Linked DNA regions of Homo sapiens. The protein of the gene in region 1 interacts with the protein of each later gene in a biochemical or structural test. Each region holds a gene or a part of one and is shown on either strand. Other genes may lie near its edges.

The links.
Region 2: of the proteins of ACAA1 (region 1) and HAT1, one has a biochemical effect on the other in vitro, tested with the Homo sapiens proteins (one study listed by BioGRID).

The regions. Positions count from the first base shown.
Region 1 is NC_000003.12:38,126,748-38,136,166, reverse strand, and holds part of ACAA1 (3-ketoacyl-CoA thiolase, peroxisomal), read left to right. Parts: intron 1-2,157; coding exon 2,158-2,215; intron 2,216-2,275; exon of another isoform or gene 2,276-2,676; intron 2,677-4,161; coding exon 4,162-4,241; intron 4,242-4,528; coding exon 4,529-4,571; intron 4,572-6,778; coding exon 6,779-6,877; intron 6,878-8,300; coding exon 8,301-8,381; intron 8,382-9,419. UniProt on the Homo sapiens protein: Responsible for the thiolytic cleavage of straight chain 3-keto fatty acyl-CoAs (3-oxoacyl-CoAs). Plays an important role in fatty acid peroxisomal beta-oxidation. Catalyzes the cleavage of short, medium, long, and very long straight chain 3-oxoacyl-CoAs.
Region 2 is NC_000002.12:171,915,292-171,927,510, forward strand, and holds the start of HAT1 (histone acetyltransferase type B catalytic subunit), read left to right. Parts: upstream 1-7,169; 5' UTR 7,170-7,209; coding exon 7,210-7,216; intron 7,217-7,630; exon of another isoform or gene 7,631-7,826; intron 7,827-10,245; coding exon 10,246-10,350; intron 10,351-12,219. UniProt on the Homo sapiens protein: Histone acetyltransferase that plays a role in different biological processes including cell cycle progression, glucose metabolism, histone production or DNA damage repair. Coordinates histone production and acetylation via H4 promoter binding.

The DNA.
Region 1 (9,419 bases):
TTAGCCCCAACCCTGTGCTCACAGAAACATGTGCTGTATTGAATCAAGGTTTGAGGGATTTAGGGCTGTGCAGGATGTGGCTTGTTAACCATTTGTTTGCAGGCAGTATGCTTGGTAAAAGTCATCGCCATTCTCCATTCTCGATTAACCAGGTACACAGTGCACTGCGAAAGGCCGCAGGGACCTCTGCCCAAGAAAGCCTGGGTATTGTCCAGGTTTCCCCCCACTGAGATTGTCTGAGATATGGCCTAGTGGGAAGGGAAAGACCTTACAGTCCCCCAGCCCGACACCCGTAAAGGGTCTGTGCTGAGGAGTATTAGTAAAAGAGGAAGGCCTCTTTGCAGACACCCGTAAAGGGTCGGTGCTGAGGAGTATTAGTAAAAGAGGAAGGCCTCTTTGCAGTTGAGATAAGAGGAAAGCATCTGTCTCCTGCTTGTCCCTGGGAATGGAATGTCTTGGGTGTAAAACCCAACCATACATTCTATTTACTGAGATAGGAGAAAACCGCCTTATGGCTGCAGGTGAGACATGCTGGCGGCAATACTGCTCTTTACTGCACTGAGATGTTTGTGTAAAGTCAAACATAAATCTGGCCTATGTGCACATCCAGGCACAGCACCTTTCCTTAAACTTACTTATGACACTGAGTCCTTTGCTCACATTTTTTCCTGTTGACCCCCTCCCCACCATTACCTTATAGTAATGGTATATAATGCCACATCCCTCTTGCCAAGATAGTAGAGATAGTGATCAATAAATACTGAGGGAACTCAGAGACCAGTGCTGGTGTAGGTCCTCAATTGCTGAGCACCAGTCCCCTGGGCCCACTTTTCTTCCTCTATACTTTGTCTCTGTGTCATTTCTTTTCTCAGTTTCTCGTCTCCACCTTGCGAGAAATACCCACAGGTGTGGAGGGGCAGGCCCTCTTCAGGCAAAACGGGGTGAACAGGGTGATGGTGGGGAGAAGGTCAGCAGGAAAACATGTGAGTAAAGGAATCTGCATCATAAATAAGTTCAAGGGAAGGTACTGTGCTGAGATGTGCATGTAGGCTAGATTTTTGTTTCTCTTTACCCAGACATCTCAGTGTAGCAAAGAGTAACAGAGCAGTATTGCTGCCAGCATATTTCGCTTCCAGCCACAGGGCGGTTTTCTCCTATCTCAGTAAATAGAACCAATAGTCGGCTTTACACCGAGACATTCCGTTCCCAGGGATGTGCGGGAAATAGAGGCCTTCCTCTTTTACTAATCCTCCTCAGCACAGACCCTTTACAGGTGTCGGGCTGGGGGACAGTAAGGTCTTTCCCTTCCCACGAGGCCATATCTCAGGCTGTCTCAGTGGGGGGAAACCTTGGACAAATACCCAGGCTTTCTTGGGCAGAGGTCCCTGCGGCTTTCCACAGTGCATCATGTCCCTGGTTAATAGAGAATGGAGAATGACGATGACTTTTACCAAGCATACTGTCTGCAAACATATGTTGACAAGGCACATCCTGCACAGCCCTAAATCCCTTAAACCTTGATTCAATATAGCACATGTTTTTGTGAGCACAGAGTTGGGGCTAAAGTTACAGATTAACAGCATCTCAAAGCAGAAACAATTTTTCTTTGTACAGATCAACATGGAGTTTCTTATGTCTTCCTTTTCTACATACACACGGTAACAATCTGATCTTTCTTTTCCCCACAATCTTCAGTCCAGCCCTCTATTCCACCCCTCACCTTGAAATACAGCAATATGATATGGCAAGAGTCTTATCCAGCGGATGCCACCCCTAGGTCGGCAATCACTGTTCCACCTCTCTGGGGTGACAGCAGGGCTCACAGGAGGATACCTGGGGAGATGTGCATTTTCAGAAACTCCCATTTCACTTTTAAGGGCAGACAACCTGCCCATCTGTGCTGATTTGGAAAAGCTGGGTGCATGGGCAAGTGAGCGTGGGACCCTCAGGGACAGGAGCTGGTGGATGACCAGGACAAGCTGTTGTATGGCTGGCTCTCCCTGCCCCAAACCCTGATGTTCCAGAGTTGCAAGTGAGCCTGCCAAGGGCTAGTGTCCCGAAGAAAGATCTGGAATGCCTCATCTCTGGTTTTCACAGCTATACTTTAGTGCCCAGAACACCACCGCCTGGCACTGAATGAAAGTTTGTTGTCCACAGGAAATGTGCTGCAGCCTGGGGCCGGGGCAATCATGGCCCGAATCGCCCAGTTTCTGAGGTAAACTTTTCTAGTTCTAGCCATGGGTTGGCCATTTTGACACTTTACTGGGCCCAGGCCCCAGGAAACTCAGTGTGCAGGTTGGGGAGGATAAGGTTGGACACCAGAATGAGGCAACGAGAGTCCTTGGCTCCCTGCTCTTGTGGACTCAACCTCTCCCCTACTTTGAAGTGCTGAGCCACGATACACAAAACCTTTGGGACTGGAGCAGAAGTTCTCTGTAGCTTGATTTTTAGCCAAAGCCAGGTTGTCATTTGCCTTTTGTGAGTGTGGACTCTGTCCTCATTTGTCAGGTGAGTAATCAAGTAAGAATGCTGAAAAGTGACTTTCAGCCTTTTTACTAGTTGAGCTGAGAACTCCAGTCATATCCCACTAGCAGAGACTTTGGGATAGGGCAGAACCATGGGGAAGGAGGACCCTCAGGAGGAGACCTGGTCAACTTTCCTTTAAGCGCCTGCAGGGTAAAGAGTGCTTAAATTATTTTCATGTGTAGATTTAAGAACTGCTTGGCTTTGTACTTCTAGATGCATAAATAAATAAATAGGAACATTAGCTAGTGAAGGAACAGGAAAACAACCCTCTAGGAACTGGGAGAGGTTTAGACTGCCCAGCCTGTAGTTCAAGGCCCCCTACAATCTGGCTCCAGACTTACCTTCCAGCCTCATCTCCTAGCTGCTTACTCACCTTGACTTTTCTTCGTTCAGCCGGCTGTGGGCCTACTGTCTTCCCTGATATGGTCATTCTGTCTCCTTGAAGTGCTAGCCCTACCTCCTCTTTCTGCCCTAGACAGAAAGACAAACCCTGCCTAAACACAGTCTCACCATTTTGGCATGAGTTATCCAGGCTCTCAGGCTGAAATTGAGAGCCCCTTCCTCTCCAGCAGTAGCCATATACTTCCTTGTGATGTGGTTTGCCCTCTTGCCCTATTATTTCAGTCTCTGATAGTTGATTCATTTTCTGTGTGTTGGTTGGGCATCCTCTAGGGCACAGTGTTATAAGCATCGCAGCATCCCTCAGGTGATGCCTTGTGGTAAGTAGGTATTTAGTGAACACTTGGTGGATTGAGTGAAGGAATGGTAACTACCTGCTAGGGAGTTAAGGGACCCTGGAAGGGTCAAACAGGCTGCACAGGAGGCTATCCCCCTGAGAGAGTCTCTGCAGAGCCTGGCCTGGGCACTAGTTCAGAGGTTCCCAACTCTGGCTACACACCAGAATCACCAGGATGCTTCCACTCCCTCAGATTCTGAGTCTGTGGGTCTGAGGAGGTCTGGAAATTTCCCTAGGGCTTTGTACTGTTGGCCAAGGCAGGTTACATCAGGAGGGGAAGCCCTACTAGCTTCCAGGGCTAAGACCAGTATGAGAGTCTTGGGGAACCTACCAGAGCAATGGATGTTAGAATATATGATGCCCATCAGAGTGCTTCGTCTAGGTGGGATCAGGCTTTCAAGAGTCCATGGGAACATGCAGGGTTAGCTATATGATTACTGGTAAGGCCGAGTGGTCCCTGGCCTCAGACTTTAGGCATTTCTTTTGCTCTGGTGCTCTGTCCCAGCAGCAGTTCCTTTTCTCTGTTTTTTGGGGGAAACAGAGATACACAGTTTTCATTTCTGAATCTTCAAAGGGAGAGAGAGAGAAGGATCCCTGTGGCCCAAACAGGCTTCCCTTGCCTTTGGGCTGTGCTTGGTCTTTGATTGAAGATTCTCATAGGAGTAGAAGGGAATGTGCTTGTGGGGCCCTGGGGAGCAAGTGCCTGCAGAGATGGGGTCTGCCCAGTAGCTGCTCACCCCCATTCCATGGATCTGGCCTGGCATGGGAGCAGAGCTGCTGGGTTTGTTCCCCTGCCCTTTACATCCCTTGAGGGGGGCAGTTAGAAGCATAGGACTGCTTTCCATGAGAGCCTGGCATGGAATTGGGGGCTGATTCTACTTTCTCACCTTCTGTTTCAGTGACATCCCGGAGACTGTGCCTTTGTCCACTGTCAATAGACAGTGTTCGTCGGGGCTACAGGCAGTGGCCAGCATAGCAGGTAAGTTATGACTGGGTGGGTGCCTTGGTCCTGGACCTGTGGGTTTGGGTCAGCAAAGTCGCTGTCTGCCGGGCAAGCAATAATTACCATTTCTGAGGACTCTAACCACAGAAAGAGTGCAGGAGCGCCCCCTACCACTGCCCAAAGCCTTTTCTGAACACTCCTGGGTCTTCCATTTCTGAGGCTGGGGCTGAGTCCCATCTAGAGACCAGGTGGGGAAGAGGCTCCACTGCTTCCAGAACAGGTGGACTCTGGCAAAGGATGTTTATGAAATGCTTTTGTTACAGGTGGCATCAGAAATGGGTCTTATGACATTGGCATGGCCTGTGGGTAAGAATTTTTTTCTGCCGGAGCTTATTAACCAACTTGTGACAATAAAACTAATTTTCATCTGAGTTCTCAGAGGCCATGATTTCAGGATTCCCCCCATCCCCTTTAGGCAGCTGGCCACGAGTGGGTTCTCACAAATGCAGGTTAAGAGTGGCTACCAACTCTGGCTGCTCAGGAATCACTCACACCTCTCAGCACTAGCAGGGGAGGGGAATTGGCCTCTAAAAGCTTACTTTCTTGGAAATCTTTCAGGCTGGAAAAGGTGGGAAAACATTTTGAGAAAATCCAGCATTTGGGTTTCCTTTGGGGGCCCTTGTTGATTCATGATGCTGCTGAGAGAGAAGTTGCAGTTTGGGTTCCCTAAAGCCAGGGACAGCGCCTACTGTATAACTAGTTTGTTCATTTTACTAGGCTGTCTGTCCCTTTGTCTCCCCACCTTGGAACCAGTGTGGAAACTTCCAGCTGCTTATGGGCTATGAGGGACATAATTAGATCTGTGGTGGTTTGGTCACTGTCACCTTCACCTAGACTGTGGCTCCATCATTGGCTGCAGCAAATGGAGCTGCAGAAGTTGTATTTGGCAGTGCCTCCAGGGAAGGTCAGGGCACAGGTGCCCAGGCTTGGGTGGGCATCTGGTGCTGGGAGGGCAGGGGAGTAAGGTCTTTGGCAGGCTGGGGGAGGTGAGCAGCCCCAGGGTTCTGACATGCCTCCGCTGCCTTTCACATCCTCTTTAGGGTATTTCTTGAGAGGACGCATTGCTGGCCCCTGTCCCAGGGCTGTGGCAGCTGTCACTGAGTTGTAATGACCTATGTCTACAGTTGTAAATAAAGCCAAAGACCACTCTGCAAGGACTTTGGCTGGGCAAAGGCCACTGCCGTTTGATTTCTCTCATGCTCTTCTATCTTACTGGGTGAGAGGTGGCATGGATAACTTGAGAAGGGCTGGAGCTTTTATGAGTTTCTTAGAGAGTATCTGATTCCCAAGCAGGTTAAGGATGATGGTACTAGGATATTAAGATCTGGGCCAGGCCTGACACCCACATCACAGGCTGACTGTTCTCCATAGACTTTGATCAGCAAGTATTTAACACAGGGCACTCTAGTTGGAAGTGGGCTCTGGGACCAGACTACCTAAATGTGGATCCAGGCTGGGTCACCATGGATAAGTTATACAGTCTCTCTAGACCTCAGTCTCCTGATCTATAAAATGGGGATACCTAGCTCAGCTCTGTTGAAGTTGAGAAGAATAAATGGAGTAATAGCAACAGTTTACACTGTGGAGTATTTGTCTGTCATGTGACTGACACTGAAGCACTCTAATATCTCAAAAGAATTCAGAATAGTGCTGGGCACGTGAAAAGCACTCAGTCAAGGTTATCTGTTATCATCCCTTGAGGTGTTAGGGTCCCCCATGGCCTCAAAGCCCTTTTTTGACCACACTACACTGCCGTCTCCTTCCTCTCAGCTCGTAGCACTTCCTTGTCTATGCAGGTCTGAATGCCCTTTGAGCTCAGCTTTGTGGTTACTTTTATTTTTATTTTATTTATTTATGTTTTTGAGACAGAGTCTCGCTCTGTCGCCCAGGCTGGAGTGCAGTGACACGATCTCATCTCACTGCAAGTTCCGCCTCCTGGGTTTACGCCATTCTCCTGCCTCAGCCTCCCACCCTGGCGCCTGCCACCATGCCCGGCTAATGTTTTGTATTTTTAGTAGAGGCGGGGTTTCACCATGTTAGCCTCATGATCTGCCCGCCTTGGCCTCCCAAAGTGCTGGGATTACAGGCGTGAGCCACCACAGCCGGCCTGTGGTTACTTTCAAATTGTCTCTTCTCCCTTCTGAATTTGTGGGCCCTGAGGGCAGGCCCTGGCTTGTGGATGTGTTTCCTCCTCTGTGGCTGACAGCAGAAGGCTTTTCTCTGGAATTGCCAGTTGGCTGATTTAGCAGTGTATAGGGAAGCATAGCCCTGCCCCCAGGAGTGTTTATTGTGCAGTGCTCTGTCCTGGGGTGGGGGTCGAAATAGAGACAGGGCTCAGTACTCGTGGCTGGGCCTTGCTGGCCAAGTGCCCTGCCTGTGACTCCCAGAGGCCCACTGGTCTTCCTAGGGCTCCCTGGCTATTTCCTAGCACTTGCCAAGTGTTCAGCTATCTCTGGAGGAGTCCTGCTAGGGCCCAGTTCACCTTACCTTCTCCTCCTCTTCCTCCTCCCCAGGGTGGAGTCCATGTCCCTGGCTGACAGAGGGAACCCTGGAAATATTACTTCGCGCTTGATGGAGAAGGAGAAGGCCAGAGATTGCCTGATTCCTATGGGGTGAGTGCTCCCATAGCTCTGTGTGCTTGTGCCCTCTCTGCCTGGGGCAGGGAGCCAAGGAACTTTTATCATCTCTGTGGCTGGTGGTGCCAAGCCTTGGCCTCCTTCCTTTGGGCATGGTCTGCTCCGCAGGGACTTTGGGGATGAGACTTGATGTTGCCCTTGACTTCCATTTCCTGAAGGCCCCAGGTCCTCTCTGTGCCCCCGAGTTTCCAAACATCGCCCACCTTGTCACTCCCACACTGAGGTGCTCAGTCATAGGAAGGACAATGGTAGCTCCACTCCAAAGCCTTGGGGGCCTAGAAAGTTGAGAAGGCAGTGGGAAGCTTGTGACGACAGAACATGCTGGTGAGGGGAATTGGGCCCTGTCAGGTGCAACAAGAAAAGTATGTGGCATTTGGCCGGGTGCGATGGCTCATGCCTGTAATCCCAGCACTTTGGGAGGCCGAGATGGGTGGATCACAAGGTCAGGAGATCGAGACCATCCTGGCTAACACAGTGAAACCCTGTCTCTACTGAAAATACAAAAAATTAGCCGGGCGCGGTGGTGAGCGCCTGTAGTCCCAGCTACTTGGGAGGCTGAGGCAGGAAAATGGCATGAACCCAGGAGGCAGAGGTTGCAGTGAGCTGAGATCGTGCCACTGCACTCCAGCCTGGGTGACAGAGGGAGACTCTGTCTCAAAAAAGAAAAAAAGAAAAGTATGTGGCATTTGTATGGAACACTTTAGCTTCTCTGAGCCTCTGGGCCATCCCCAGGGTCTTTGGGCCAGGAGTCCTGGATCCACTAGACATATGAGGAGACTGAGGCTTGGAGAGGGGCAGTGCCATGGCTTCTTTCACATACTGTATCTCCAAGGGAAGCCTATAAAGCCAGAAGCCCAGGCTGGAAGGCCTAGCTGTGGCTCTAGGTTCTCAGGATAAGCATAGACCCCAGCCAAGGTGACCAGGAAGCTTAGGTTTGGCCTTTCCAGAGGAGATTTGGGAGTCCTCATCTCCCTACATTGCAGCAGTCTTCCTTGAGGCATAGGAGAAGCTGGCCAGGAGTAGCCAACTAGTGCCCCCACCCAGGCCCTCCCCTGCTCCTTTTCTACCCTGCGCTGAGGCAGCTCACCCAGGGAACAAACTCCTTTCTGCAACTGCCCCCATGCAGGCTGCCCTCTCTTGAAGAAAGTCTCTTTGGTGTATGAGCTTCTCAGGATCTGGCCAGCATTGCTGACTTCCCTATCTGTGCCTTTATATCCACTTTCAGGGCAGGCTGTACCATATCCTGAGTCATCACTACTGTCTGTGGCATGGACTGGCCCTTACATCCTGTCCTGCCTACAGCCTTGGGAACCCAAAGTTCCAAGCACAGCTCTACAGCCTGGTCCCTTCCTCTAGGCTGTCAGACCAATGCCCACACTATCTGCTGTTTGTGTTCTAGGATAACCTCTGAGAATGTGGCTGAGCGGTTTGGCATTTCACGGGAGAAGCAGGATACCTTTGCCCTGGCTTCCCAGCAGAAGTGAGTGCTGATTGGGGAGGAATGTTTAAAGGGCTGGAGAGTGAGGTTTTGAGTCTATCTAAGTGGTCTGAAGTGGCACCATTTCGTGGTTACTGCTGGGCAGTGAGTGCTTTCCAGGCCTTGTGCCACCCAGGTTGGGGGTGGGAAGTAGGAAGTGTCAGGGCCACTGTGAGTTGGTAGTACTTCCAGGTTCTATTACTGTCTGTTCACCCTGACTTTGCCCTAGCTAGGCCTCAGTTTCCCCCTCTGTTATTTTCTGGCTGCGGTTTGGGGACTGGACATTGTAGCCTGGAGTGTGGGGCCAGCAATGTTAGGGACTCTGGCATCCTAGCTTCTGGACCATGCTGGGTCTGTGGCAGCATCCTGAGGCAAGAACTGAGGACGATATCAGAGAAACCCCAGGGGCTCAGGCAGGCTAAGATTGGCAAGTCCCGGCTGTCCAGAGAGGAAAGCAAAAGCAGGGAGTGGTATCTGGGCCAGGTGGGCTTCCCTGAGGCAGTGATTCTTAGCCACTTTGGGTCACATAACCATTTGAAAATGTGTTAGAAGCCTTAGATTCCTTCCACTTGAATGTCCCTGGGCACTTACATGCTGCACATATTTGCAAGGGTCACCCTTAAATACCTTGTGCTTTAAAATTGCTTAAATACAAAAATACATGAGTAGTTTAGTATATGTCACTTTAAATAGGCGGAAACTGGGGAATAGATGACATCGAACTGTTGAGTTTGAGCAGAAAAGTTAGCAGAACCCAGCACAGATATTTCTGGGGTTCCATCCTCAGTTTAGCAGAGAGAATCAAGCAGGCTTAATCCCTCTTGGACAAAGGGCTCTAAGTGGAGGCACCACTTCCAAACACCCTTTCCCCCCTTTGAGGTTGGGATTGGCCACGATCTGGAGGTCTGGGGCTGATGGTGAAGAAGGCCCTGTAAGGCCTTAGCCATGCCCTCAGAGCTCCCCCAAAGTCGAGCATGTCCCTGAATTTAGCAGCCTGAGCTTGTGTCTACCCAAATGGATAGGGGTTGGGGGCAGGGAGGA
Region 2 (12,219 bases), on another chromosome or scaffold:
TCAAAAAAAAAAAAAAAATAGTATTAAAAGTGAGTATTTATGATCTTTTTTGTCTAAAAAATAAAACATTAATAGTAATATTTAATATGTGAATTAACAGTAGTAAAAAGCATACATTTTTAAGGAGATATGACCAAAAGTTGTTACACATATGTGTGCCAAATAAAAATGTATCATAATGACGAGATTATCTGATTTCTAAAGCCACTTGGCTCTAAAATTCCTGATTCTGTATTATTCAACTGCCTTAGTTTCTCTTAAACTATATTAAAAAATAAAATCCTATCTATACTAACACTGACTTCCTCATATAAAACAAAATTTAATTTTGAAAAGATTTTAAAAAGCAAATCTTTTATTCTTTAAATGCATCCTACCCCTACCGACTCACCCTTCTTACCTGATAAAGCAGGTTCTCTTTGTGTCATGTGATGCCAGTCAGTATGACTTTCTTCCTCTTAATTCATTCAACTGACTGGCAAAGGGACTGGCCCTGTGTTTATGCGATTAATGAAGTTAACCTTAAAGTCTGGATCCCCCTAGAAAATTTTTGAAAAAAATCTCTTTAATTTTCACTAACTTGCACAGTGGTTGATTTAGCTTGTTGACTTCATATAGTCCCTCAAAACTCCAATTTGTAAAAAGAATTAGAGAAAACACTACCATAAAACTAAACTTTATTTTTATTCTTTTAAGGTTTATGAACTAAACACTGAACTAGCACCATTATACAGTTGGTATAAACCTTGTTACTTTGTGTGTCCACATCATGGGAAGTTAAAACTCCTGCTGTACATAGTGATATAGGTAAATAGGTTACAAAGGAGTTGACTGAAAACCAACCTATTAAAATGACAGATTTCACAACAAGGTGAATATATTCTTAATATTACTGAACTATAAACTTAAAAATAGTTAACATGGTAAGTTATATGTTATGTGTTTTTTTACATTAAAAGAAAGACAATGGCCTGGTGCGGTGGCTCACACCTGTAATCCCAGCACTTTGGGACAGAGGCGACAGAGTGAGACTCCGTCTCAAAAAAAAAAAAAATAATAATAATAATACTTAAAATAGCATTTTAATGATAGAATGTATAATATCACAGTTATTATTGTATTACCTACCAAAAGTAGACAAATACATAATTAATGCCATTCTAATAAATTAGTTTCCAAAAGTAAAGCAGGCATCACTGGACAGTCATTTTGAAAACAGGTATAAATAATTATAGTGCTTGTTATTTTGGCCAATCTTTGCTTGTAAATAATGACAAAATGCAAAATGGAAAATATTAGTTTTCAACTAATTGTTCCTAGTTTTGATTAAATTGCTTCCCTTAGAGTCTGTGTACCATAATACGTCGAATGTAGAGAAGAGGATAGGGAGTTAGCAACCATGTCTAAAAACCTCCAAAAAGATGGATAAGTTTCTCTTTTTTTTTTTTTTTTGAGACGGAATTTTGCTCTAGTTACCCAGGCTGGAGTGCAATGGCGTGATCTTGGCTCACCGCAACCTCTGCCTCCCGGGTTCAAGTGATTCTCCTGCCTCAGCCTCCCGAGTAGCTGGGATTACAGGCATGCACCACCACACCCGGCTAATTCTGTATTTTTCTTTGAGACGGGATTTCTCCATGTTGGTCAAGCTGGTCTCCAACTCCGGACCTCAGGCGATCTGCCCACCTTGGCCTCCCAAAGTGCTGGGATTATAGGTGTGAGCCACCACGCGCAGCCAGATGGATAAGTTTCTAACTGTGAAAGAAACCAATACATCATCATTGAAAGAGACAAATGGTATTAAAGAATAAAAAAACTCATTAGGCTGGGCGCGGTGGCTCACGCCTATAATCCCAGCACTTTGGGAGGCCAAGGAGGCAGATCACTTGAGGTCAGGAGTTCCAGAACAGCCTGGCCAACATGGTGAAACCCTAAAATTACAAAAATTAGCTGGGTGTGGTGGCGGATGCTCACTGTAGCCCCAGCTACTCGGGAGGCTAAGGCAGGAGAATTGCTTGAACCTAGGAGGTGGAGATTGCAGTGAGCCGAGATCATGCCACTACACTCCAGCCTGGGCAGACTCTGTCTCCAAAACAAAAACAAAAACAAAAAACCTCATTAATCCCCATCTCTAAATTCCCCCTAAAGGCAACTATAGTTAAGTTTGTGAGGTATGCTTTCAGATGTTTTCTGTTTATATCAAAATATATTTTTATATAAATGAAATAACATTATATTTTTTGTAATTTATTTTTTAGCCTATTGTATAGGAGATAGAACATATTAGCCAGCCCCTTGTGCTAGTAGTTTAGGCTATTTTCAACTTGCCAGTGAAAATAATACAGCATTGAACATCTTTGTTTTAGTGTATCTTTGCATTTCTGTGAAATAGTTTTGCAGTACAAATGCTTAAAAGTGGAACTGTTGTTGCCTCAAAGGATACACAAATTGAAAATTTTGTTACATTTGTAAAAATGTGTTAAAATTTCTAAATTGCCCCTCAAAAGTTACTAATTTATACACGTATGGGTAGTACATTAGAGTTGGAAAATAAAGACTGTTGGTAATTTTTGTGTATTTAGGATAGGGGTCCTCTTACAGTAGTTTTCAACATGAGCCGGTCCATTTTTATTTTCTTTCTTTCCTTTTTTTTTTTTTCTTGAGACAGACTCGCTCTGTCGCCCAGGCTGGAGTGCAATGGCGGGATCTCGGCTCACTGCAACCTCCGTCTCCCGGGCTCAAGCAATTCTCCTGCCTCAGCCTCCTGAGTAGCTGGAATTACGGGTGTATGCCACCACACCCGGTTAATTTTTGTATTTTCAGTAGAGATGGAGTTTCACCATGTTGGCCAGGCTGGTCTCGAACTCCTGACTTCATGTGATTTGCCTGCCTCGGCCTCCCAAAGTGCTGGGATCACAGACGTGAGCCACCGCGCCCAGCCTATTTTCTTTCTTGTATCCCATTTGGAAGTCATCTAGCTGGATAATGGTTTCTGGATAATTGCTCTGGGAACTGAGACTCATAACTTTATGCTCATTAGCACTACGAGCTAAAAAAATGAGCTAACTAACTACTGTTATTTGTCTGTGTAAAGGTATGCATTTTGAAATGAAGACACATTACATACATGCATTTTTCTTAAAATTGATTTCCTGCATCAATTTTCTGATGACCATATATATATATATATATTTTGAGACGGAGTCTGTCTCCCAGGCTGGAGTACAGTGGCATGATCTCGGCTCACTGCAAGCTCCGCCTCCTGGGTGCATGCCATTCTCCTGCCTCAGCCTCCCAAGTAGCTGGGACTACAGGCGCCCGCCACCACGCCTGGCTAATTTTTTGTGTTTTTAGTAGAGACGGGGTTTCACCGTGTTAGCCAGGATGCTGTCGATCTCCTAACCTCGTGATCTGCCTGCCTCGGCCTCCCAAAGTGCTGGGATTACAGGCATGAGCCACTGCGCCCGGCCCGATGACCATATTTTTTTGTGCCAAATTTTAATCCATTCTGGAGGTTTCAAAGCAAGATAGTGAAGTTTATCAGTCCATATGAACTTGAGCCTGTACCAACACATGGTTGCCAGTTCATACCTAATAGTGTAATATGGCCCTTTTCTCTGAAGAAAATGCCTTTTCCAAATCTCCCTTACTAGAATAAATGTTATCATAGTAATACCACTTCATACCTGCATAGAGTTTTAGAGTTTACAAAGGTCGTTCACAAATATTATTCCGTTTAGTTTTTACAGCAACCCAGTGTGGTGACTGGGCAGTACTATTATCTCCACTTAATAGATGCAACAAGGTTGAACAAGCATGAAGTAGTAGAACTGGGACTAGTAGGGCAGTAAACTTCCCACAAGATATGTTGTCTCTTCCATATATATATGAGGATAGCATATTCCTTTCATAGAAATTTTATTCCATGATTGTAATAGTTGCTTTCTTAAATTCTCTTTAGAACAAAGTAAAATATAAGTTAAAAAAGGAAAGAAATCCCTACAAAAAAAAAGAGAATTTTTTTCCTTTTGGGTAATTTTCACATTACCTTTCCAAAATAAGTCATTCTTTTATCTTTTAGGTAAACTGTACCAAAACATCTATTCTGTAACATTAAAAAAAAAAAATGTGAGGATGGACATGGTGGCTCACACCTATTATCCTAGCATTCCGGGAGGCCAAGCTGAGAGGATTGCTTGAGGCCAGGAGTTTGGGACCAGCCTGGGCAACATACTGAGACTCCATTTCTACAAAAAACAAAAAAATTAGCTGTGCACAATGGCACACATTTGTAGTCCTGGCTATTTGGGAGGCTGAGAGGCAGGAGGATCTTTTGAGCCCAGCAGTTGGAGGCTGGAGGCTGTAGTGAGCTATGATTGCATCATTGCAATCCAGCCTGGGTGAGAGTGAGACCCTGTCTCAAAAAAAAAAAAAAAAAAAAAAGTGAACATCTAAGACGAGGACAATATAAAACCTCAATTCTGCAAGCAAATCACATTAAATGCTAGTCATACAATATATCAGTAAGTTTCATCATATTTTTTTCCTACAACTAACCATAATATCACAGGACTAATAATCTGTGATATACCACAGTTAAAACGTAATTCTTCTTGATTTCTTACTTATAAAGATCATAATTGCTGGTCAGCAATTGATCCATAGATAAGGTGATTTTGGAAAGAAATGATAAGTCTTGCCATTTTGAAAAGAAAAGTTTTTTTTTTTTTTTGAGATGGAGTCTCGCTCTCTTGAGCAGGCTGGAGTGCAGTGGCACTATCTCAGCTCACTGCAACCTCCGCCTCCTGGGTTCAAGCGATTCTACTGCCTCAGCCTCCCAAGTAGTTGAGATTACAGGCTCATGTCACCACGCCTGGTTAATTTATTGTACTTTTTAGTAGAGACAGGGTTTTACCATGTTGGCCAGGCTGGTCTCAAACTCCTGACCTCAGGTGATCTGCCTGCCTTGGCCTCCCAAGTGCTGGGATTACAGGTGTGAGCCACCGTGCCTAGCCAAAAATGATTATTAAAGAAAAAGATTGTTTTCCTTTTTTGATCCATAATGTCATTAGTCTCATTGATTTCAGTTTTCTGTCTTAACATTATGACTGTAATTTCTTTTTTTTTTTTTGAGACGGGGTCTCGCTCTTGCCCAGGCTGGAGTGCAGTGGCGGGATCTCGGCTCACTGCAAGCTCCGCCTTCCAGGTTCACGCCATTCTCCTGCCTCAGCCTCCTGAGTAGCTGGGACTGCAGGCACCCGCTACCACGCCCGGCTACTTTTTTTGTATTTTTAGTAGAGACAGGGTTTCACCATGTTAGTCAGGATGGTCTGGATCTCCTGATCTCGTGATCCGCCCGCCTCGGCATCACAAAGTGCTGGGATTACAGGCGTGAGCCACCACGCCCGGCCTATGACTGTAATTTCTTGTGTATCATTAGGTTTCAAGAAAAAGGATCTTGAAACCTTTTCTTGGGATCACGACTGTAATCCCAGCACTTTTGGAGGCCGAGATGGGCAGATCATCTGAGGTTGGGAGTTCGAGATCAGCCTAACCAACATGGAGAAACCCCGTCTCTACAAAAATACAAAATTGCTGGGTGTGGTGGCGCATGCCTGTAATCCCAGCGACTCAGGAGGCTGAGGCAGAAGAATCGCTTGAACCCGGGAGGCGGAGGCTGTGGTGAGCTGAGATTGTGCCATTGCACTCCAGCCTGGGCAACAAGAGTGAAACTCCGTCTAAAAAAAAAAAAAAAAAAAAGAAAGAAAAAGGATCTGGGCATTCTCAGTACCTTTTCTGATCTTTATCTTCAGGAAAGCCATCTCTATATAGTTGAGCAAATAAATACTGGGCTGAGTATCTGATGAACTGCACTCTGCATAGGTTGCATACTGAGAATGAACTTGGGCAGTTTATCTTTTCTGGGCTTTGGTTTCCTCATCTCTAAAATGAGAGGGCGTGTTAGTTCTAGACCATCATCCCAAGGGTCCATTTTAGCTTTAGCGTGCATCACTGTAAAACCTGTTAACAAATATTTGTTGAGATAAGGAATTCTGGTGTATAGCCAACATTGTGGGAATATTTGTGGATACCTAAATAGTGGTTTATCCTCTGGGGAAAGCAGTTCCTACAGCTACTAAATACTAACAAGGCCTATGGCTAAAATCAGGTAGCACCTTGTGATGTAATTCAAACCACTAGGACATGTGGCATGCAAGACTACATCAGGCTACTTGAGGTATTTATTAGGTAACAATTTTTTTTTTTTTTTGAGACGGAGTCTCACTCTGTTGCCCAGGCTGGAGTGTAGTGGCGCAATCTCGGCTCACTGCAACTTTCGCCTCCAGGGTTCAAGCGATTCTCCTGCCTCAGCCTCCCGAGTAGCTGGGATTACAGGCGCCTGCCACCATGCCTGGCTAATTTTTGTATTTTTAGTAGAGACGGGGTTTCACTATGTTGGCTACACTGGTCTCGAACTCCTGAGCTCAGGCAATCTACCCGCCTCGGCCTCCCAAAGTGCTGGGATTATAGGCGTGAGCCACCGCGCCCGGCCTAGGTAACGATTTTTGCGCGCTAAACGGTTCTTAGTAACCTGCAGAGTGAAAGCAGAGTACCTAAATATCATACTGTATACGTTAAAAACAGGGGAGAAAGGAAAAAAGGTGTTAAAGTTTACAGCAAAATGAGAAACAAATGAGGAAAACAAGTGAAAGCTTCTCCCGCAACTGAAACTCAACCTCTACATTTTACCTAGGTAAAATGGTAAAATTGCCCACAGGGCTCAGGTGTTTGGATGCACTGTCCAGGCCAAGAGGAAAGATTTTCAGCCAGTCTCCAAAACATCTCAGGGACGGGTATGGAAAACAGGCGTAAAGTGTCTGTATTGATCAAATCAACCCCAGAGAAACTTTCCTAGGGCCAGAGAGCATCTCAACCGCGAAAGTCCGTTTGCGGCCTCCTTCTCCACTTCAGGCCTGCAAAGCGGCTGACGGCATTCGCAGTGGCTAGGCAACGGCCCGCGCAGACTTCTCGGCGTTAGCCCCGCCTCTTGAGGCGCTTCCGCCGCCGGGCTCCTGGACACGCCTCCTTTAATTGGCTAACGTCACGCTGGGAGTGGGCGGGGAAAATATGTCAGACTGTGCGGTCACTTCCGGCCCGGGAGCGCGCGGGTTGATTCGTCCTTCCTCAGCCGCGGGTGATCGTAGCTCGGAAATGGCGGGTAAGTTACCGGGAAAAGTTTACCAAGGGGAGGAGGCGGCCAGATCGGGGATAGAACGCCGAGACGGTGGTGACAATGCCCGCCTAGAACTTTCGGGCTGTAGCCTGGGTTCCAGAAGGCCTGCTTGGGACCGGAAGCGCGGAACTCTCAGCCCAGCAGCTCCTTGTTGGCGGCGGTCCGCGCCCCCGCCCCCAACTGCTTGGGGTTCTGCGCCTTCTGCCAGCAATCCGGCCCCTACCGAGGGCCGAAGACGCCAGGGAAAAGCGTCATGATTTGGGCTCGTAAAATGCCACATGCCTTGGGGCCTGTTTCTCTTCCCATTCCTTTTGTCCACTGCTGCTTGCTTCAGCTCTTGTACATCTGGTCCTGTTCCCGCCAGCTGATTTTAATGCTCAGATCCTCCTCCTCTTCCAGGTCTCCGTCTACCTTCCACTACAGTCAACTTCTGAGCTAGCGCATTGCTGCCTTGCCCTGCTCTGGCGCTCCCACTTGGATCTCGACTGACTTCGTAGTCGTCTCGTTAATCTGTCACACTTTAGTATTCCGAGGATCGTATTTAGATGCCCTTTGAGAAAGACTTTGTTCCTGAACTGCTCCCTTCTCTTTTAGGGTTGGACTACTATAATACAATTCTCTTGTGTACATTCTAGAGACCCTTCAAGTTACAACATTTAATAATGTATAATTGCTATTACTTTGTACGTGTATTAAGGCTGTTTTGGTGTGATTATTTTTTTCGATTACTTATCTTTTGAAGTTATGGACAGTTTCTTTTTCCTGAGACAGGGTCTCTCTGTCGCCCAGGCTGGAGTGCAGCGATCATAGTTCCGGGCAGCTTCCAACTCCTCGTAGGCTCAAGCGATCCTCTTGCCTCAGCCTCCCGAGTAGCTAGGACTACAGGCATGCGCCACAACATTCGGCTAAAAAAAAACAATTTTTTTTAACCTTTTAGAGACAGAGTCTGGCTGTATTGCCTCAGGCCGGTCTGGAACTCTTGGCCTCAAGCCATCCTCTCGCCTCAGCTTCCCAAAGTGTTGGAATGACAGGATTGAGCCACTTCGCTGGCCTTTGTTGCTTTTATCATCTCTTTACAGGGCATTCCTCATAGTCTCTCTACATTAACCATTCCATTTTTATGAATATGTGGGATAGACAAGCTGTTGTGTGAGCTCTACAGATGTTTAAAGAAGGACTTTTCTACCAGATGGAGATTGTAGGATCTTGAAGTACCACAGAAGAGGGAGGACGTACTCTAAGAATTACATCTAAATTCGAATTTTGGGCCCATCATTTAGTAGTTGGATGCCCTTCAACTAAACCTCTTTCTAAGCCTGAACTTTTGAATGTAAAATGGGGTTGATGTAATACCTACTTATAGAATTGTGCAGATTGAGCTAATATATGATTTCACAGGTTAAATTTTGTTGCTTACATTCCTCGAAGTAAATTCTGTAATCTCGGTTCTGTAGATTAGGGTCAGAGGGGTTAAGTAATGTGCTCTAGTTCCCTGAGCTTACTAGCTCAGTAAGTGTGTGAAATAGTCAGAATCCAGGAATTCTCACTCCAGACTATTAATCTGTACTGCTTCAAGTCTTTCCCATTTTCTGTGTGTGTGTTTTAACCCCTTTTTGAAGTTTATAGCACATCATTGTACCCCTTTTTATTTTTTGCTTATGGCTTTTTTCTGTCTGAATTTTTACTGATTTTTTTTTTTTTTGGAGACTGAGTCTCGCTCTGTCACCAGGCTGGAGTGCAGTGGCGCGATCTCGGCAACCTTTGCCTTCTGGATTCAAGCAATTCTGCCTCAGCCTCCGGAGTAGCTAGGACTACAGTCACGCGCCACCACGTCCAGCTAATTTTTGTATTTTTAGTGGAGATGGGGTTTCACCATGTTGGCCAGGATGATATCCGTCTCGACCTCGCGATCCCCCTGCCTCGGCCTCCCAAAGTGCTGAAATTACAGGCGTGAGCCACCGCGCCCAGCCCATTTTTACTAATCATATGCCCATTTTGTCAGGAGATTTGTTATCTTGAAAGTTTCTCTTGATAGTGATATCTTCCAATGTTATTTATTATGTATATTATTGAGTAGCCACTATGTAGTAAAACTATTGTGCCAGTAGCTCACAGTTTATGACTTTAGGCATACATGATTTTTAAATATTTAATACAGTGGAAAGATGTTTTCTTTGTGCCCCTGTTCCTCTTCCTTCTTTCTTTACCCATGGTAACTATGGTTACCAGATATTTGTGTATTCTTCTTGAGACATTCCATGCATTATCATTTCCTTATCTGAAGCACTCTGGTAGACTTTTTCCAATACTTAAAATGAAATTCTGTCATAATTATCAGAGGACATTCTCATTTTGCTTTTTACATCTTATAATGAAAAAGACGACTTAGGTATAAATCCTAGCAGGTAATTTGTATTAGTACATGTTCAGAAATGTTAGTAATCTATCATGTTAATTTTCAGGTTTATTCATTTATATTAAGTATTCCTAGTTTATAAGCCTGTATCTCAAAAGTGATTTCTTTTTCTGTTTTGTAATGAGGCATTCTTTTTTTTTTTTTTTTTTTTTGAGATGGAGTCTTGCTCTGTCGCCCAGGCTAGAGGGCAGTGGCATGATCTCGGCTCACTGCACCCTCTGCCTCCTGGGTTCAAGAGATTCTCCTGCCTCAGCCTCCCAAGTAGCTGGGATTACAGGCGCCCGTCACCGTGCCCGGCTAATTTTTGTATTTTTAGTAGAGACGGGTTTCACCATCTTGGCGAGGCTGACCTCGAACTCCTGACCTTGTGATCCACCCACCTCAGCCTCCCAGAGTGCTGGGATTACAGGCGTGAGCCACCGTGCCCAGCTGGCATTCTTAATACATTTATTTAAGAGTATGTGGAGAATGACTTGTGCTTTTATGATCTATCAGCATGTTTTAAATCATACCCCTATTCCACTTATAATAACCCTATTGCAGGTTTGACAATTTAAGTCACTTCCAAACTAAACCTTTTAAAAACCTTTTCTCTTAGGATTTGGTGCTATGGAGAAATTTTTGGTAGAATATAAGAGTGCAGTGGAGAAGAAACTGGCAGAGTACAAATGTAACACCAACACAGCAATTGAACTAAAATTAGGTATGTATGCCATTTCTAAGTGATGTTATGTACATACTGTGTGTGTATATATAATCTTTCATTTTAAATTTGAAGTAAAATTTTATGTAAGAGCAGTTATTTATGCAAATGTATGGTTTTCTGCATTTATTGAACATATTCAGATTTTATTCAGTTTTGATTTATGTCATGGAAGGTGTAGATGTTTGAAAGGTGACAGAATTTTATATAAAAAGGAAAGACGGTGGGGCAAAAAGTAATAAGTATATATAGTTTTAGCCTCTTAAAAATATTTTTTACTTTTTTGCCTGTAAGAATAATAAACAATAGCAAATATTGGTGAGGATGTGGAAAAAAACACTTGTATATTGCTGGTGGGAATGTAAAGTGATATAACTATTTTGGAAAACAGTTTGGCAATTTTCTTTTCTGTCTTTTTTATTTTCTTTCCTTCCTTCTCTTCTTTCATTTCCTCCCCTCACCCCTTTTTTTTCTTTCTTTCTTTTTTAAAGAGACAAGGAAGGTCTCACTCTATCACCCAGGCTGTAGTGCCACGGCATGGTCATAGCTCACTGCTGCCTCCAACCCCTGGGCTCAGGCAGTCCTTCTGCCTCAGCCTGCCAGGTAGCTAGGAGACCACAGGTGTGCACCACCCAAGCCTGGCTAATTTTTATAAAAAATTTTTTTTTTGAGACGGAGTTTCACTCTTGTTGCCCAGGCTGGAGTGCAATGGCGTGATCCTGGCTCACTGCAACCTCCACCTCCTGGGTTCTAGTGATTCTCCTGCCTCAGCCTCCCGTGTAGCTGGGATTACAGGCATGCGCCACCACGCCCGGCTAATTTTTTGTATTTTTAGTAGAGACGGTTTCTCCATGTTGGTCAGGCTGGTCTTGAACTCCCAACCTCTGGTGATCTGCCCACCTTGGCCTCCCAAAGTGCTGGGATTACAGGCATGAGCCACCACGCCTGGCTTATAAAAATTTTTTCATAGAGATGGACCCTACGTGTCTATGTGTCCAGGCTCATCTTGAACTCTTGTCTTCAAGCAGTCCCCTGGCTTGGCCTCCCAAAGTGTTGGGATTATAACTGTGAGCCACAGCGCCCCTCCTGGTTTGACAGTTTCTTAAGAAGTTAAACATAAATGAATTATATGACCCAGGAGTTATACTGCCAGGTATCTGTCTACTCAAGAGAAATGAAAATGTATGTTCACGCAAAAACTTGTACATGAATGTTCATAGCTGCGTTATTCACAGTAGCCAAAAAAATGTAAGAAACCCAGATATATATCAGCTGGTAAATGAATAAAGTATAGTATAGCTATACCACGGAATACTATTTGACAATAAGAAGGAATGAAATTCTGATACCTATTGCAGTAAACCTTAAAAAGATTGTGCTAAGTGAAAGAAACTAAACAAAAACACCATATATTGTGTAATTCCATTTGTATGAAATGTTCAGAAAAGACACATCCATAGAGACAGAAAGTAGTGGTTGCACAGTGGAGCGCAGAGTAACTACAAATGGGCCTGACATTTCTTTTGGGAATTATGGAAATGTTTGAAAGTTAGATTGTGGCACAGCTCTGAATTTGCTAAAATTTTACACTTAGAACAAGTGAAAAATAATATATGCTCATGATTCCTGGTTGCATTACTTTCCATGCCTGAGTTTCCTCATTGTTAATAGTACTTCACAGTGGTTACAAAGATTAAATATGGAGTTAAATATCAGTAAAGTGTTTAAACTCCTTGACATGCAGAAAATACTTGGTAAGGGCTGAGTGGAGTGACTGGATGTGGTTGCTGAGATCTGCGTATTTTTTTTACATGTCCCCTCATTTTTCAATTACTTCATTCTTTGATAGTTTGATTACCTTGGAACATC